2 separate regions of the Homo sapiens genome follow, and region 2 is linked to region 1. The links come from fine-mapping of genetic effects on gene expression. Tissue or cell type: whole blood. Region 1 holds a variant in brackets; the other region holds the start of a gene. All regions are shown on one strand. Distances are between the middles of the regions.

Region 1 (8,101 bases):
TCGTGTACTCATTTATTCATGCATTCATTCATTTATTCATGCACTCATTTGTGCATTCATTCACTTATGATTCATTCATTCGTACATTCATTCGCGCATTCATTCATTCATGCATGCATTCATAGTATAGTTCATGTGCCCTAAGCCACATACTATGAATGAGTAAACCTGGGGAAAGAGAGAAGACACAGCTCACCTCCTCGCCAAGCTCCCAGTCAAGTGAGGAAAGAAAAGGAGAGGAGGAAAGCGAACAGGGAACAGCCAGGCAAGGAGACCTGGCCTCCCAGGAGAAGCCACAGGTGCCTGTGAGCAAGGAGGGCACAAGCCCCTCTCTGGGCTCTGAGGGTGATCACAGGAAAACATCCTATGAGGAGGGCAGTCAGCACCAGCCCCCACCTCAGGCCACATGGTACCAGCCTGGCTGCCCTCACTCCAGGGCAAGGTCCTTCAGTTGGAGTCGTGAAAAGCAGGCAGGAGACCTTGGGGTCCTGGAAAGTAGAGATCACAGGCGGGGTTTGGGTCCTATGGGAGAGGGGAGCAGGGTTAAAGAAGGCTGGCAATGGGGGACCCAGGATGCAGGGGGAGAGGAGGAGGCTGGAGGATCCCCAGTGCACAGTGCTGATGCAGCAGAGAGAACAGAGTTTTCCCATCAGGGCTGTCAGGGACCATGGACCTGGGCCACTGAAATGCCTGCGGGAAGTAACCCGCAACTGGGGTCCTGTTGAGGTGTTTATCTGCAGGCAGCTGGGGTCACGAGCTGGGAAGCAGGACTCCGGGCAGGCTTCCTGGAGGAGGCGGCCTTCAGGTGGGCCAAGCAGTCGTTGTGACCAGCAAGCGCCACCTGTGCCTTATCCACTCCCACACTCACTGCTGATATGCTTCCCTCGGAATCACCGCTGAAGTTGAGTCCTAGGCCACATGGTGTCTTTCACATACCCCTTTCTGTTCCCAGCCCAGGTTTTAGCCTCAGAGACTGCCTCTCAGTCTCCATCTGGCTTTTCCAGCTGTGAAACCCGGGGATGAGACCCAAGCCCCTGTCCTGGCCCTTCCAGCCTCCCCTGCCCTGGTGCAGCTTTGTCTCCCTGGGGTGACATCGGCCCTAAGTTAACAAGATTCCACCCCAGGAGGTGATGAATGGCTTGTTCCTCTCCATCCTTGTGGAGAGCTGAGCTGTGGCAGTGACACGGCCATGTATACGCCCAGAAGAGTGATGCTGGGGCTTCTCTGTGCTCCGTCCAGGTAGTATTTGTCAGCCGCTGCGGCTTACCAAGCATTTCCAGGTCCACATTTCACACCCCAGCTGCAGTCCCCCATCTCCTCTTCCATGTGCAGAAACAGGGTCTGGCCAGGCAAGCTGAGGTCACAGACGGTCAGCAAAGGAGATGGGACCTGAGCCTTTTCCCTCGATAGAACTTTCTGGCCCCTGCAGATGATTGGATCTTGCAGAGATGAGGCCCTAGGGCTGCCCTCAGGAAGTGTCTTTGTCCTGGCTCCTGGATATGCCTAAAGTCTATGCTGCCGGACCCAGGGACTGTTTTTGGAACCGAGCAACTTGCCTTCTGGTGCTGGAGCTGCCTTGGCAACCTTGCGATGTGGTGGGGTGAGCTCGGGTCGGGAGACTCACACAGAGGGTGGACTTCCCCTCTGCTGCTCCTCGGCTGTGTGACCTTGAGCAGCTCACTGCGCCTCTCTGAGCCATGCTGGGAGATGTCAGTGAGACACTGAGACCTGGACATTGGACACCCAGTCCCCTTCCTGGCGTAGAGATGGGCTGCTGAAATGCTCCGGTCCCTCCACCTTCCTAGACAGGGTCAGGAAATGCTGCACTGTCCTGGCCAGACACATTCCAGGTCCTGGTTGTCCCTAGGGTGGCAGCATTTAAACTGCACCCAAGGGACCAGAGTTCCCTCTGGTTCGCTGGAGGCATCACTGGCCGCAGCCCACCTGGACTCGTCTTCATTTCCTTTCATTACATGAAGCCTGTGTTGGATTTGCTGCAATTGACAAGTGAAAGAGAATAGGTGCTCAGCCCACTTTCAGCGCCATTGGGTGGGCGGAATTTGCAGCAATTAATTCCAGGGAAGCAGCTTCAGGACAGGGCCCCAAGGGCTCTGCGCAAGGCCAGGCAGCTGCTCCGGAGCTGGGATGGAGGATGGTCCCTCCTGCCACGGGAACAGTCAGGCCGCCCACATCCTGCTGAAATCTTGAAATCTGAGCTCTGTTCTACCCCCATAGTCACTGAGTGCTTGTCCATTAAGTAGCACACAATTGCTTTTTGGAAGCAGACCTCGAGGTGGAATAAGATAGCATGTATATGATAGAGGATTGTCCCAATTATATCTCTTCTTCTTCTTCTTCTTTTTTTTTTTTTTTAAGGAAAGGGGACTAGAATGTAGCACTATGGAAAATTAAAATCTTGAGAAAGCAGCATTAGAATAAAATGAGTCTGCTTATGGGCAGCCCTTCCTCCCCCTGATTAATCAGACAGGAGGCTGCTGTGAGCAGGCTGGTTCTGCTGAGGCTGCGCTCTGGGGCTGCAGTGAGAGAGTCCCATGTCCACGCGGGCAGACGCAGCCGCAGATGCCCGAGGAGCCTGGCCTCCTCAGCTGCCCGTTTCCTGCTCTGAGCTGACAGCAACTGCCCACGCCCAGGCCACTGCCTGCTGCTACTGCCTACTGCAGACGCAGACGCACTCCCTCTAAACTGAAGAAGTTCTTTCTCAGGGTTCCTTCTCATGGTCTGAGAAGGCAGCAGTAATAGCGCAGATAGGGGGTCACCTCGGGGAGCCTTATTCTCTCCACCAGGACGAGCTGAGGGTGCACAGGAAGGTCGACTGCCCCTTGGGGGGCAAGTGGCACAGGCACTGCTGAGGGGCACCCGGACGTATCTCCTAAAGCTGAGGACACACGAAGCCCACAGATCAATTGTGAAGCATGAATGTGAAACTGCATGTCTACAGCGGCCTGCGAAGGCACCCCTGTCCGGCGATCCCACGCGGGGCGCTGCCGTGGGACATTCTCCCTCTTTTCATCCGTGCAGCGGCTCTGAGGGGGGCATGGGGCTTGTCCCTGGGTCACCGTTGAGGGACTTGAGGGATGTGGATGGCCCAGTGCCCCCAAGGAGGCTGCGTAATTGGGCAGCATAGCTAGAGGCTTTTCTCAGGATGGCTGCTCTCAGCGTGAGTTGCAAACCCCTTGGGCAACCCCTCTTGCCCCAGTCTGGGCTGGGAGGCACTGGGGGACTCATTTATTGCTTTCACATCAGGTAAGCCCAGCTGCAAAGCTGTTCCCGAGACCAGAACTGCATGTGGCATCTGCAGAGCCCAGAGTCCACCAGCAGCCTTGAAGCACAGAGGAGGGAACTGGCCCGAACATTCAAGAAAGGAGGGCCCAGGGCCACCAGAGGGTAGCAACCAGCCCAGACTTCTGGTGCCACTGCCCACCAATCCCGGCAAGGCCATTGTCCCCCGCCAGGGCTGTGGCTGCTAAATGCAGGGCAGGCATGGGTGAGCTGCAGGCTCCAGGTGGCTGGGATCCCCCTCCTCCTCCTCTCTCCATCCCCCAGAACAAGGTCACAGACTGGACCGTGCTGGCCACCATGGCACACAGGGCCTTCAGGCATCACCCGTGAGTTCCCTTTGTCATGGGAGAAATGGGGGCTTGGAAAAGTGGTTCTTAAATAGGCAGCGGCCTCAGGCTATTAGACACCTGCTCGGCCCACAGGCGCATCAAGACCAACTCCCTAGCGGCCTTTTCAGGACGACCTTGATATCAGCAGGCAGGAGTTCCAGCGAAGGGGAGGACACGCCCACCTGGCTCTGTTAGGCTTGCTGTCTCACCCTCGGTGCATTGGCACCTGGTCTTCTTACCAAGCAACAAACCCATTTTTACCCTCTTTGACTCCAGGCAAACAACCCTGCGTCCAGACAGTTAGGAGGCGAGAAAGGCAAGGGCGGCTCCACCCTGGCATCTCAGCTACCTCCCTAGAGGCTGCGTCAGGAACTGGTCACCATGAGTCTTCCTGCTCATTGTGGAGCCTTTCAAGTTATCAGTGAGAGTCCTTGGATCAGCTCGATTACTTTAGAAACTTTATTTCCCCAGTTTTAAAAGCCATGCGTGTTCATCGTGGAAGGCTGCACAGTAAAGAGAAGCCTGCAGGCCTTCCTTCTTGGCGCATTTGCTGAGAATTTGCTAAGGGCTCTGCTGTGCCCCATGCTGGAGATGCCTGTCCCTGTGGGTTTGGGCCTTGGAGAGGCAATAGTTACAATGACTCACCAAGGCATGTGTCCTTGCAAAGGGATGGCTGAAGGGCTGGGCACGACAGGGAGGCAGGCCTGGTAGCACCAGATCCAGGGGTTTCTCAGATTCTGCTCTGAGTGGACACAGAGGGCAAGCATGGGGGAAGGCTGTGGCTGGCCAGCGTCACCGCCCATCACCTCACAAAGATGGTGTGTTTGTCATCTGCTACCATGCAGCAAATTAACCCAAAACATAGAAGTTTCAACAAGAAACATCTCTTATCTCAGGGTCTGTGGGTCAGGAATTGGGGTGCTTCTGCCCCAGGGTCTCTCATGAAGTTGCAGTCAAGTTGTTGGCCAGGGCAGTATTCATCAGAACGCTCAACTGGGGTGGGAGGAGCTGCTTCCAAGCTGGTGCATTTGGCCATGGGCAGAGGGCTTCAGTCCACACCATGTGGGCCCCTGGTAGGGCTGTTCCTGGGTCTCTGCAATGTGACAACTGGCTTCCCCAAGAGCCAGTGATGCA[C/A]GAGAGAAAGCAGGAAGAGGCTGCAATGCCAGGCTTGACCAACTCTGAGGCCACACTGTAACCCATCCGGACACCAGGTCCAGCCCACGTTCAAGGGGAAATGAGTTGAACTCCACCTCTTGAAGTGAGGATTACCAAAGAAATGGTAGCCATATCTTAGAATTTCTGTGAAAATCTTTCCATATTTCTCTATGCTGGCTTATGCCTGCAGATATAAATATTTAATTTTTATAAATTGGATGATAGTATACAACCCATGTTGAATCCTGATCTTTTCATTTAAACATGTCAAGGAGAAGGTCTTGCATCTGGAAATGTGGATATGTGTCATTAGTTTTGATATTTTAGGCATTATATTTCAAATAACATGATGCCCTAATAAATGTTTCTTGAGTAAGTGAATAATGGACAAATGCCCGGTGACACCATTAAATGTCTTTAACCCCTCACCTACAGGGAGTTCCAGTTGGATTCAATGCTCAATTATTTTAGAATTTAGATAAATATTGCATGAGAGATGGCTGGTGTTCCAACCACGCTCTCTTCCCCCGGTGCACATGTTTCTCAGGCGGTCCTGTGTGTACTGGAGTCTGGTCAATGGGAGGTGAGAGGAAGTGCTGTGTTCTGCTTCTGGTCAGCCATAAAACCCCTCATGTGTGGTCCTCACGCTCTCTCCCTCTCTGTCTGCTGAACCAGAGAAGGGTGGTACCATGGAGCAGGCAGGACCTGGATCACAGCATCGCTCTGTGGGTTTCTATGTTGGGAGAAACTGCCGAGGTTTGGGGCTGTCTCTTACAGCAGTAAACACACCAGATCTTTGTGCCTTTGCCTAGGGATCTGAGACATTCTCCCAGGGAACTGGGGGCTGGTTCAAAGGACACATGTATCTTCAGCGTGGATACCTGCCATCAGACTGCCCTCCACACGTGGCCGTTTCTCCTCCCAAGGGCTCTGTGGCGTGGCCTCCAGCTCCTGCAGGCATTCCACAAGCAAAGCAAGAATGTGGACCCCAAAATGTGCTCCCCAGAGCTCAGGTCTTGATGCCACCCCCTCCTTTCCTGGACTGGAAACTGCCTAATATGGGCCAACTGGGTCATCTCAGCTCTCAGTTCTGAAGACATGACTGTCCAAGGAGCTACTCTGTAGTCCCAGAGCGGTGGGCACCCGGAGGCTGCACTGCACATGGGGCCAGGGCTAACTCCTCCCCATCTGGGGCACAGCCACACCCCGTCCTACTGCCCTGTTGCTCCATCCCTCCTCCTCCACTGGGCACTGGGCTCCTGGCAGGCAGCTTCTGTCTTGGCCCAGCTTAGCACACAGTAGGCACCGGAGACATGCACCATGTAAACGAATCAAAACAAGGATGAGTGAGTGAGAGCGTGGCTGACATGCATGTTAGGAGCTGAACCAAGCTGCCCCTCGCCCCAAATTCACATGTTGAAGTCCTCACCCCAGCAGCTTGGAGTCTGTGATCGTATTTGGAGGTAGGATTTTCAGAGAGGTAACTAAGTTAAAATGGGGCCATTAGGGTGGACCTTAATCCAATAGGACTGGTGTCCTTAGGAGAAGGGGTGGTAAAGACATGGACACCCACAGAGAGAGAAGATGGCACCCACAGGCCAGGGAGAGGGGTCTCAGAAGGAACCAGCCCTGCCAGCCCCTTGATCTCAGACTTCCAGCCTCCAGAACCGGGGACAATACATTTCTGGTGTTTAATCCTTCGTCAAACATAACATGCTTCATACAGCCGCTGAGCAGACTCGTATAGGGGGCTCGGTGGCTCGTGACTGGACTAGGGAGGTCTGAGGCCTCAAAGCCAGCAGAGGCCGGGGCCTCTGGGGGTTCCAGCAAGTTCCTGTGATGAGGGTCCGGACACCCGCCCACGACCTCGGCCCCACTCGCTGCTGCGTGGGCTGCCCCTGGCCGCGGTGCCAGCTTCCACCTGCGATCCCCATTTTGTCTCTCAAACCCTGCGGATCTGCCCTCATTAGCTGCTCCGAATCCCATTTTTAGTCCTTTTATTTCCACACCTCTGAAACGTCAGCATCTTTCACTTCATTGCCGGTATGGAGCCCTGGAAGGCCAATTATTCCCCATTTGGAACAAGTTCTCTTCAGCACGAAGAACTTCACATAAAAAGTTATTCATTTTATTTCAGGCAGCTTGGAGAGAAGTCATGCCCTGTGATGAGTTGGAGAGAAAAAAAGGCGCAAGCAACTGCAAGGTCCGTGTGTGTGAACGCCGCATGGATTTGCCTCCAAAGAACACGTGAGCGACCCGCGCTGCGAGCAGTGCCTGGCTCCCGGGGCCCCGCGTGCTGGAGCCGCTGCGGTCACGCCTGGTGCTGTGAGCAGTGCCTGGCTCCTGGGGCCTCGCGTGCTGGAGCCGCTGCCCTCACACCTGGAGTTAAAGACACTGGGGCTGAATTCGGGCTCAGCCACTGTCTGCATGACCAAGGGTAAGTTACTTAACCTCTCTTTGCCTTGGGTTCCCCATCTGTGCCTGTGGCTGAGACCATTTCCATCTCAGATGCATAAAGTGATGAGCACAGTGTCGAGCCCCACAGTCAGCCAACAGCACCGTCATGATCATCCCTGTCTGGGTTGTTCCCTCAGTCAGCCCATGAGGCAGGTGGAAGAGATCTTACTAATTACGCAGAGGAGGAAAGGGGAGCTCAACAATGTTAAGGAGCGGCCGGGCGCGGTGACTCATGGCTGTAATCCCAGCACTTAGGGAGGCCGAGGTGGGTGGCTCACTTGAGGTCAGGGGTTCGAGAACAGCCTGGCCAACATGGCAAAACTCTCTCTCTACTAAAAATGCAAAAACTAGCCGGGTGTGGTGGCGTATGCCTATAATCCCAGCTACTCGGGAGGCTGAGACACAAGAATGGCTTGAACCCAGGAGGTGGAGTTTGCCGGGAGGTGGAGGTTGCTGGGGGGCGGAGGTTGCTGAGAGGTGGAGGTTGTGGTGAGCCAAGATTACACCACTGCACTCCAGCCTGGGCGACAGGCCCTGTCTCAAAGAAAACAAAAAAGAACAATGTTAAGGGGCATGTGGAGCCAGGCCAAATGCAGTCTTCTGATTTCAAGCATGCTGCCCTCTAGGACAGGCGGGCCCTAGTGTTAGGGTGGGGAACCGTGAGAGCTATGCAAAACAGGACATGCCTTACACTAGCATATGTTGATGTGGGAGATATTTTCTTCTTGGTATTTCAAATCAGCACATGCTAATAGTCACCTTTATGTTCTGAGCAAGTTACCAAAGGGTTTCTTTAAGGGCATATATTTGCTTTTGTGGTCTTTAAAAAGCCCAATTAAAGTTTATGGCTTTGGCTGGGA
Region 2 (8,101 bases), 120 kb before region 1:
TGTGTGTGTGTGACTATGTGTGAGTGTGTGTGTGACTGTGTGTGAGTGTGTGTGACTATGTGTGAGTGTGTGTGTGACTGTGAGTGTGTGTGACTATGTGAGTGTGTGTGACTGTGTGACTATGTGTGAGTGTGTGTGTGACTGTGTGAGTGTGTGTGACTATGTGTGGGTGTGTGTGACTATGAGTGTGTGACTATGTGTGAGTGTGACTGTGTGTGTGTGAGACTATGTGTGAGTGTGTGACTGTGTGTGTGTGACTATGTGAGTGTGTGTGACTATGTGAGTGTGTGTGACTGTGTGACTATGTGTGAGTGTGTGACTGTGAGTGTGTGACTGTGTGTGTGTGTGACTATGAGTGTGTGACTATGTGAGTGTGACTGTGTGACTATGTGTGTGTGAGACTGTGTGAATGTGTGTGTGACTATGTGTGAATGTGTGTGACTGTGTGTGAGTGTGTGTGTGACTATGTGTGAGTGTGTTTGTGAGTGTGCGTGTGTGTGGTGTGACCCCACTCCCTCAGGGTGGGAAAGTTCCCTGCCCATAGGCACTACATGCAAATGCACCTTTCTTCTGGGGAATCAATGGGTGGAACAGAAGGGCCCACCATTCCTCCTTGTTCCCTTGGTAACTCTCCTATGGGGCCCCCAGAACCCAGGTTAACCACAGAATACGGGGTCCTTGGGTGGAATGTGCCAAAAGGCTGGTGGGCTGTGCCCATTAGGAGAAGGCCCCCTGACTAAAGTGGGGAGTGGAGGAGACTGAACCAGGTGATGAGCTCGGCCATGTGGGTCCGAGTGCCCACTTCCCTACTAACAGCTGTTTGGCTTGGGACAAATAAGTCCACCCCTTGGGAGCCAAATTTCCTTTTCTTGAACTGGAGTGAAAAATCTCACCAACTTCACATGGTTCTTGTGAAGATTAAGTGAAATAACGGATTCAAAATATGTTATGCAAACGACATATGCAAACCTGCTGTTCCCATGTGGTTCTGAAGGTGACAGCATGGCCTGCTTTAGCCCCAGGAAGGCATTCATGGTGATGAGCACCTGTCCAGCCACTGGCCAGGTACAACCATTCAAGGGCAGAAAAAAGATCTCATCTCGTAAAATCCAAATGGCCATGCATTCCTGGGCCTATGGGCGCTCTCCAAGGTAGCTGCTGGGTGACAGCCCCAGCCCTGTGCACACAGATTATGACATCACTCAGAGACGAGCCTTGTGTCCCGTCTCACCATGCCCATGTGACTTCTCAGTGGAGCCTGTGGTGACAGGGGGCAGGTCTAGTCCTCTCTTCCTGGACCACCCTTGGAAGTCTCAATCCACCTGTGTGTCCACCCACCCATCCACCCATCCGTCCATCCATCCACCCACCCATCCACCCATCCGTCCATCCACCCTTTCACTCATTCACAAATATTTTGAGTGGAGACAAACCAGGAAAGAGTCAAAATGGGGCCTGCAAGCTAGCCAAGCCTTGGTGCTGGTGTGAGCACACAGGCATGTACACACACACACACACACACAAACACACACACATACAAACTCACACACTCTGCGCAGACTCACCTTCTCCAGTAGCTGCCTCAGCTGTTTTGTGCGGGCATCCCGTGAACACATGGTCTGCTGTGGAGCGACCACTGTGCAGATACACCTGCCCTCGCTGTCCTGGGCAGAGCTGTACACCTGCCAGCTCTCCTCAGGGTTGGTGGGCAGCACCTGGAGAGGGGCGGGGCGGGAAGGGAGAGGGAAGGAGAGAAAGGGAGACCATGAGGTTGTGTATCAGAGCCAACAACCAGGGGAAACTGTCCACATCCACCCCCAAGGAAAAGATGGGAGGAAATGGTCCCAAGACATGTTTGACCCAAAGGGAAGAAAGGGTCCCTGGGAACAAAGAGGCACAGGTCTCCTGTTAGGGGGCTCAGGGCTGGAAGGATGTCAAAGAGGCAAGACCCTTTACGTTCTTAAAATTTAAGTTCAACTCAAGGGATGTCTGGAGTTTGTCGTCTGGCCAAATTGATCTGCTGGGTGGATGGGAGGGGCAACTGGAGGCCACAGGCTGGACTAGGAGCAAGGCAGGAAAGCAAACGCTGGGTGGCTTGCAGCGGGCACGTATTTCAGAAACAGGATATCCTTCCCGTAAGTCAAGCACGGGTGGCTGGCACCACCAAGCCTCGCCCTGCCGTTCCCTGACACTTGCAGACGAAGCACCCACTGTAACAGCCCCAGATCCAGCAGCCTATTCGCCCAGAGCTGTGATGAACCCCGAGCTACAGCAACCTCCCAGCCGGCAGCGTGGCACAGACCGACCCGAGAAAACACTAGGTTTCCAGCTCCTTGTGGGCTCCCCCCACGAGCCATTTGGTGGAGGTCGCCAAATTGCTGGTGACATGCTGTGCAGGGGTCACCCCCAACCTCAGTCCTGAGGTTTGCCCAAAGATCACCAAAGAAACCGGAGCTGCCCATGTCTGGTCTAACCTTGCAGCCCAGCCCTGCCAGGTACCGGGGCGGGCACTCCTGAGCCTACACAGCTCCATCCTGCTGCTGGCCCTACTGTCTCTGAGCACGCTCCCCTCCGGTGGCATCAGGTCATCTCTCTGCTATTTTTAGCATGAAGATGGGGAGGAGAAGTTGGGCGGGTAGAATCTATAGTAGTCATATCTTTAATCTCATTCATTCCCAACCCCAGAAGATCGGGACCGGCAGGCCGGAACAAAGTCATCATGGAGGAATCGCCCTCCGATTCCTGAAGGAGCAGGGAGGGCGGCCTCAAGAGGGGTCTTAGGAGGGAGCCACACCACGGAGCCCTCTTCGCAGGGCACTAAACCCCTGGCAGCAAAAAGAGAGAGGGAGGGAGACTCACGTCCTTCACCTCTCCTTTCAGCCTAAAGGGCCAGTGGTCTGGGGCGCGCCTTCCCGGCAGCGGCCCCTTCCCCGCGCGGCCCTCCGGGTGGCGGTTTCAGCTCAGCCTCGCTCAGCCATCTAAGTCAGCTCTGCCCAGAAGCAGCCCCGGCCACGGTTCCCCTCCCGCTAGGCTCGAGAGGGAGACGCGATTTCAATTTCAGAGGCCAGGAGGGAGGGGTGCGCGCAGAAGACGAAGGCAAAGGCGAGGGGGTGAGCGCCCAAGGGCAGGCTCCCAGGGGCCCCACCCAAGCCCCTCGGCACCGTCCTCGGAGGAGAAGGAACAAACCCTCCTATGGACTGGGGAGGAAAGGGCGCCTTGGGACTTTGGGAATGCAGGCGCGGGCAGGAGCTCCGGAGCCCACCGGCTGGGGCCCCACTCCCAGCCCGGTCCGGCCAGTCTGGCTTTTACAAACTAGGGCGGGCTCAGTCCCCGCTGGACCGAGCCCAGACTAGGGTCTAGCGGCGGCTCCACCCCTCACTCGCTGAGTGTGACCTTGGACAAGTCCCCAAGTCCCCAGCCTTAGTTTCCTAACCTTTTCAATGGGGGGCTCATGATTACTGACCCAGGACTCCAAGCCTCCGAGAACCCACCAAGCTCCCCCGGCCCCGCGGCGAGGGGCCCAGACGAAGGAAACGCCGCCCCAGGGGCGCGCGGGCGGAGATGGAGTGGCCCAGGCTGGGGGAGCGGGGAGCAGGGTCGCCACCGCTGCGCCGGCCCGCGACGCCTGCCCTTGCCCGCCCTGCTCCCCGCCGCCTCCCTGGGCGACTCGGGTCCCGCGCGGCGCCCGCCCAGCCCGGGGCTCCGGACCGAGGAGGGGGAGGAGGAGGAGGAGGAGGAGCCGCGCCAAGGCGGCCGGCGGGCGCACTTACGCCGGTGCTGCGGTCCAGCGTCCCGCCGCCGGCCGCCGAGAGCTTGGTGGTGTTGAGGCCCACCAGCGAGGGCAGCGTCTGGGACATCCAGTTAGTGATCATGGCCATGGTGCTCAGCACGACCCCGATCTTGAGCAGCGGCACCGACATCGCGCCTCGAGCTGCCTCCAGCGCCCGCTCCGAGCTGGCACCGGCTCCCGCGCCCAGGCGGCCTTCAGGCGGCGGGCACCGCGGCGGGCAGGGGCGCCTGGCTGTGTCCCCGCGCCCCCTCGGCCCGCCGCCGCCCGCCCGCCGCCGCCGCCGCCCCGCGCGCCCCGGCCATCGCCGCGCCTTCCCCGGGCGCCAGGGAAGGTGGCCAGGTGGCCTCTGCCCGCCGCGCCCTGCGCCTCGCGCCGCCCGCCCTGCGCCCTGCCTTGCCCGGCTGCGTCCCTCCGGGCTCCTCCGCCGCCACCGGGAAGCGCCGTCCGGCTCTGAGCGCTGCGCGGGCTGCGCGCGGGGGCCGCGGCCGGGAGGCGGGGCTCGGCCGGGCGGGACCGACGCAATCCGCCCAGGAAATGGGTGGATTTTTCCTCTCGCTCGGCTCCCCGCCGCCCCCTGGCTGCTGGCAGCGAGGTCTGCAAACTCCAGTCCGCCCAGGAGTTGGGATCAGGGTGACATGAGGAGACGGACACACCACCACCCCCAGATCATAAAATACCCGGCGGCGGCGCGGGGACTCCAGCTGGGGGCACGGCCCGCGGCCCTCCCGTCCCGGGGCTTCTCCCATCCTCACGCCGGGGCATCCCTCTCCGATCCCCGCAGAGGGTCCGCTTTGGGGCAAAGGTTGCCGGCAGAGAGACGGCGCCGTCCTGCCTACTGGAGCCCTTTTCCGCGGTGATTCGAGGGTCCCAGCCAGCCTGGGCCGTCGCCTGAAACCCAGCAGGCAGGGCAGGCTCCGAAAAGCAGCCAGACTCGCGAGGGCCTCCAGCGCCAGGGGGGCGTCGGGGCATCGGTGGAGAGCTAAAGGCGCCCCTGCGATCCCAGGGCAGCCGCGGTGCCCTAAGGCCTTGCTTGGGAGGAAGGGAGCCAACCGGCACTCCTGACACCTGCACAGCAAGGCGGGGGCTGGGGTGGTCTGCCGTGGCCCGCGGTGCGCAGTGAGGGCCCTGGGAGGGCGCACACCCGGCAGGAGCTGCATAAGGTCTGGGGCTCAGGCCTGGACCTCAGGAGCTGAAGGGACCACGCCCATGAACCTGGTGTTGGGGAGGTGGGTGTGTGGGGCGGGGACTGGGGTCTGTGGTGGAGGGGTGTGGGTTGGGGGGTGTCCTTACTGACTCAGGGGTGGCGCTCGAGTCATGGCGCCCAGGCACAGAGGCAGGGCAAGTGGCGCACGCTGCCCCTCTTCCCGGCCCTCTGCGGCGACCGCAGCAGGACTCACGCGTGTCAGTCCCACCTGAAGCGCAGGCCTGACTGGGTCAAACACGTTAATAGGGCTTTTGCATTTACAGAAGGCTTCTAATCGGAGATGAAAGCCACTTCCTCCGGGGCCTTCCATTAAGCTTTCCCAGCCATTTGGGAAGGAAAGAATCCTCCAGATCACTCACTACACTCTTCTCTGCCTGGGCGAAAATTAATCTCCCTTCCTGGATGGGATTTGAAAGACGGACGCCGGGCCGGAAGGAGCGCGCCTCCCTGGCGCCCGCCTGAGAGGAACAACGCCTTCCTGGGGCTTTTCTCTCTGTGTGCGCAGTCCTCGGCTGAAGAGACTTCAGCTGCAGCCAAGATGATCCTGGCCTGAGTGCTGGGTGTGAGACCCGCTAGTTAAATGAGCCCCTCAGATCTGCTTTTCTGATTAATGCTGTAATCTCAGGCAGCCGGGCTGGGTCGGATGCCAGGAAATTCCAACTGTTGGGGAAGGGCGCCATCTCCCAGTGTAAGCTGGGACTGCAGGCCCGGCTCACAGACTGGGCCCAGGCGGAGACACAAGTCCGGTTGGGCTGGCTTCGCCCCCCTCCTCTGGCCATGCATGTTTAACACCGATTCAAGGCCACAAGCCGTGTCTGTCCAGATCACTCACGCCGCTTCCCGCTGCGGAAGGACAAGGACCACTTGTTCTGCGGGAACAAATTCAAATGCAACCCAATCCAATCCACAAAACTGTCAGGCCATCTCAGAAGCCATAGACATTTATTTATTTAACGAAGTAAAAGATTAACCTGCACTTGGACTGCTCTAACCTGCACCTGAGCGGCTCCAACCTGCACCTGAGCGGCTCCAACCTGCACCTGCTCCAAACTGTCCTGTCCAGTTTCTAAAATCTGTGATTCAGTGGGCATAATGGTTTTGAAAGGGTCGTCAGATAAGGCTTGAGTAAGTGTAATTGGATTTAGAAGGCCATGGAGCATTCCAGAAGGAAAGTATGGATCGTTGAAGAATGAAGGCATTTGGATTAGGGGATCCATGGCGCCAGGCAATACCAAGTGTTCCTAAAGAGGACTTTCAATCCCAATTTCTTCACGACTTCTCTTAAAGCCAGGGCTCATCACACCTGCAGCTCTGAACAATCATACGGATGCTGATGGGGCAGGTGCTGCGCCCCTGGTGGCACTGGGGCTTTGCCATGCCTGGCACCCAATCCTTACTGAAGTGCATGGTGTGGTGGCATTGACTCCACTGTATAGATGAGGAATCTCAGGCCTAGAAAGATGATAAGACCTGTCCAAGGTCATATGGTGACAGCCTATTTCCAGGGCTAAGCCCATACACATGGTGGCATCCTCGTCTTATAAATGTCATGGCCATAGTTAAATCTCACGAGCCCCAGAAGTGGCATGAGTTGCATGGCCACAGCAGCCCTGGCTGTCCGCACAGTTCCACGAGCCACAGAGGCCGCCAGAAGACATTTCATGGGCCCTTGCCTTCCACGCTCGTGGGAAGGACAGGAGGTTGCCCACCCCTTTCTGAGTCCTGGCACGAGCCTGCACCACCCTCCCTGTCATGACAGGTTAGAACAGCCACGTCTCTATCCTCATGCCAGCCCCCTACAGGCCTTGACCTTGGTGGACTCTGTACAAATTCATCAACACACATAAAAACAAGCACACCCCCTCTGCATCTCCCGGCTTCAGAGCTCAGAAGACGCAAGTGTGAGAGGGTGCTCCTGCCCAGCTTGCTATAGACCTTACAAGAGGCGGACACACGTGGGCTATTGGGGAATCACCTCGAGAAGCCCTAGGACAGCCACATGGTGAGCTGATAGGGCACAGACGACACCAACACCCACAGTCAGACGACCACTGACACCCACAGTCAGAACAGTGAGGTCCGCAGGATGCAAACCTACTCAGGTCCCAGAGCCAGGAGTGGCTGCTTGGAGGGAAGCAGGTCTCTGGGCCACTTCCCGATGCTCCTTGGCAAAGGATGCCCTCAAGGGACAAAGTTTGGATGCCCGGTTGCTGTTTAAAAATACGCATACTCTCCTCAGGCTATTGGCAAATATCTTGAAGGGAAACAAGGGGAGGGGAGGAAGAAAGGGAGGGAGAAGGGGAGAAGAAGAGAGAGAGAGAGAGACAAAGGCAGAGAGACAGAAAGACAAAGAAACAGAGAGGAGACAGAGAGGAAGACAAAGAAATGGAGAGAGAGACAGAGAGAGAGGAGAGAGAAGAGAGGAGAAACAGAGAGAGGAGAGACAGAGAGAAGAGAGACAGAGAGGAGAGATAATAGAGACAGAGAGGAGAGACAGAAGAGAGACAGAGAGGAGAGATAATAGAGACAGAGAGGAGAGAGAGAAGAGACGGAGAGAGGAGAGACAGAGAGAGAGATGAGAGACAGAGAGAGAAGAGAGAGAGAGAAGAAAGATAGAGTGACACAGAGAGAGAAGAGACACAGAGAGAGGTCCCACATGGAGCCACCTCTCCTTTTTCTACGTTGTATGTAGCTTTTTCATTCCCTTTCTGTGCTGGAACATTCCAGGAGCAAGGAAAGGACCTGGCCTCAAGCCAGGCAGAATGGGAGGAGCCACAGGTCCCCTGGGCACTCCCTCTCGGCAGCCACAGAAGACCAGCATGGGTCTTCTGAGCCAAGTGTTCCCTGTACTCCCCTCCTCTGAGGCCTCTGGGTTCACACATGGGTGGAGGCGTAACTGCTCCTCACCCCCTTCCCTGGAGAGGATTTCCATCCTGGCCCGGCTCCCTGTGCCTGGCAGCACCTCCCATAAGCTGACAGTCTCCCAAACACCACCTGCATCAGGCGTGGCTGTGTGACCTGCGATTTTGGCCCCGGGAGGGAGAACGGCTAAGGGCCACGACTGAGCAGCTTTCAGAGCCAAATGTCTCAGTCACACCCTGTCTCTC

The links. PIP is the estimated chance that this variant, and not a neighbour inherited with it, causes the effect.
Region 2: OLFM1 starts here. The variant in region 1 is fine-mapped to the expression of OLFM1 in whole blood (TOPMed, PIP 0.90).

The regions. Positions count from the first base shown.
Region 1 is chr9:134,962,263-134,970,363 of GRCh38, reverse strand. No RefSeq gene overlaps it. Among named protein-coding and RNA genes, the nearest start is that of FCN1, 48 kb to the right of the region's middle. The variant C/A (reference allele first, on the strand shown) is at 4,764.
Region 2 is chr9:135,083,809-135,091,909 of GRCh38, reverse strand. It overlaps OLFM1 (olfactomedin 1), which reads right to left and starts at 4,242. Exons shown (of 6, transcript NM_001282611.2): 1 at 3,771-4,242; 2 at 1,566-1,715. The coding sequence starts at 3,920. RefSeq lists enhancers at 1,978-2,781, 2,782-3,586, 4,221-5,081, 5,082-5,942.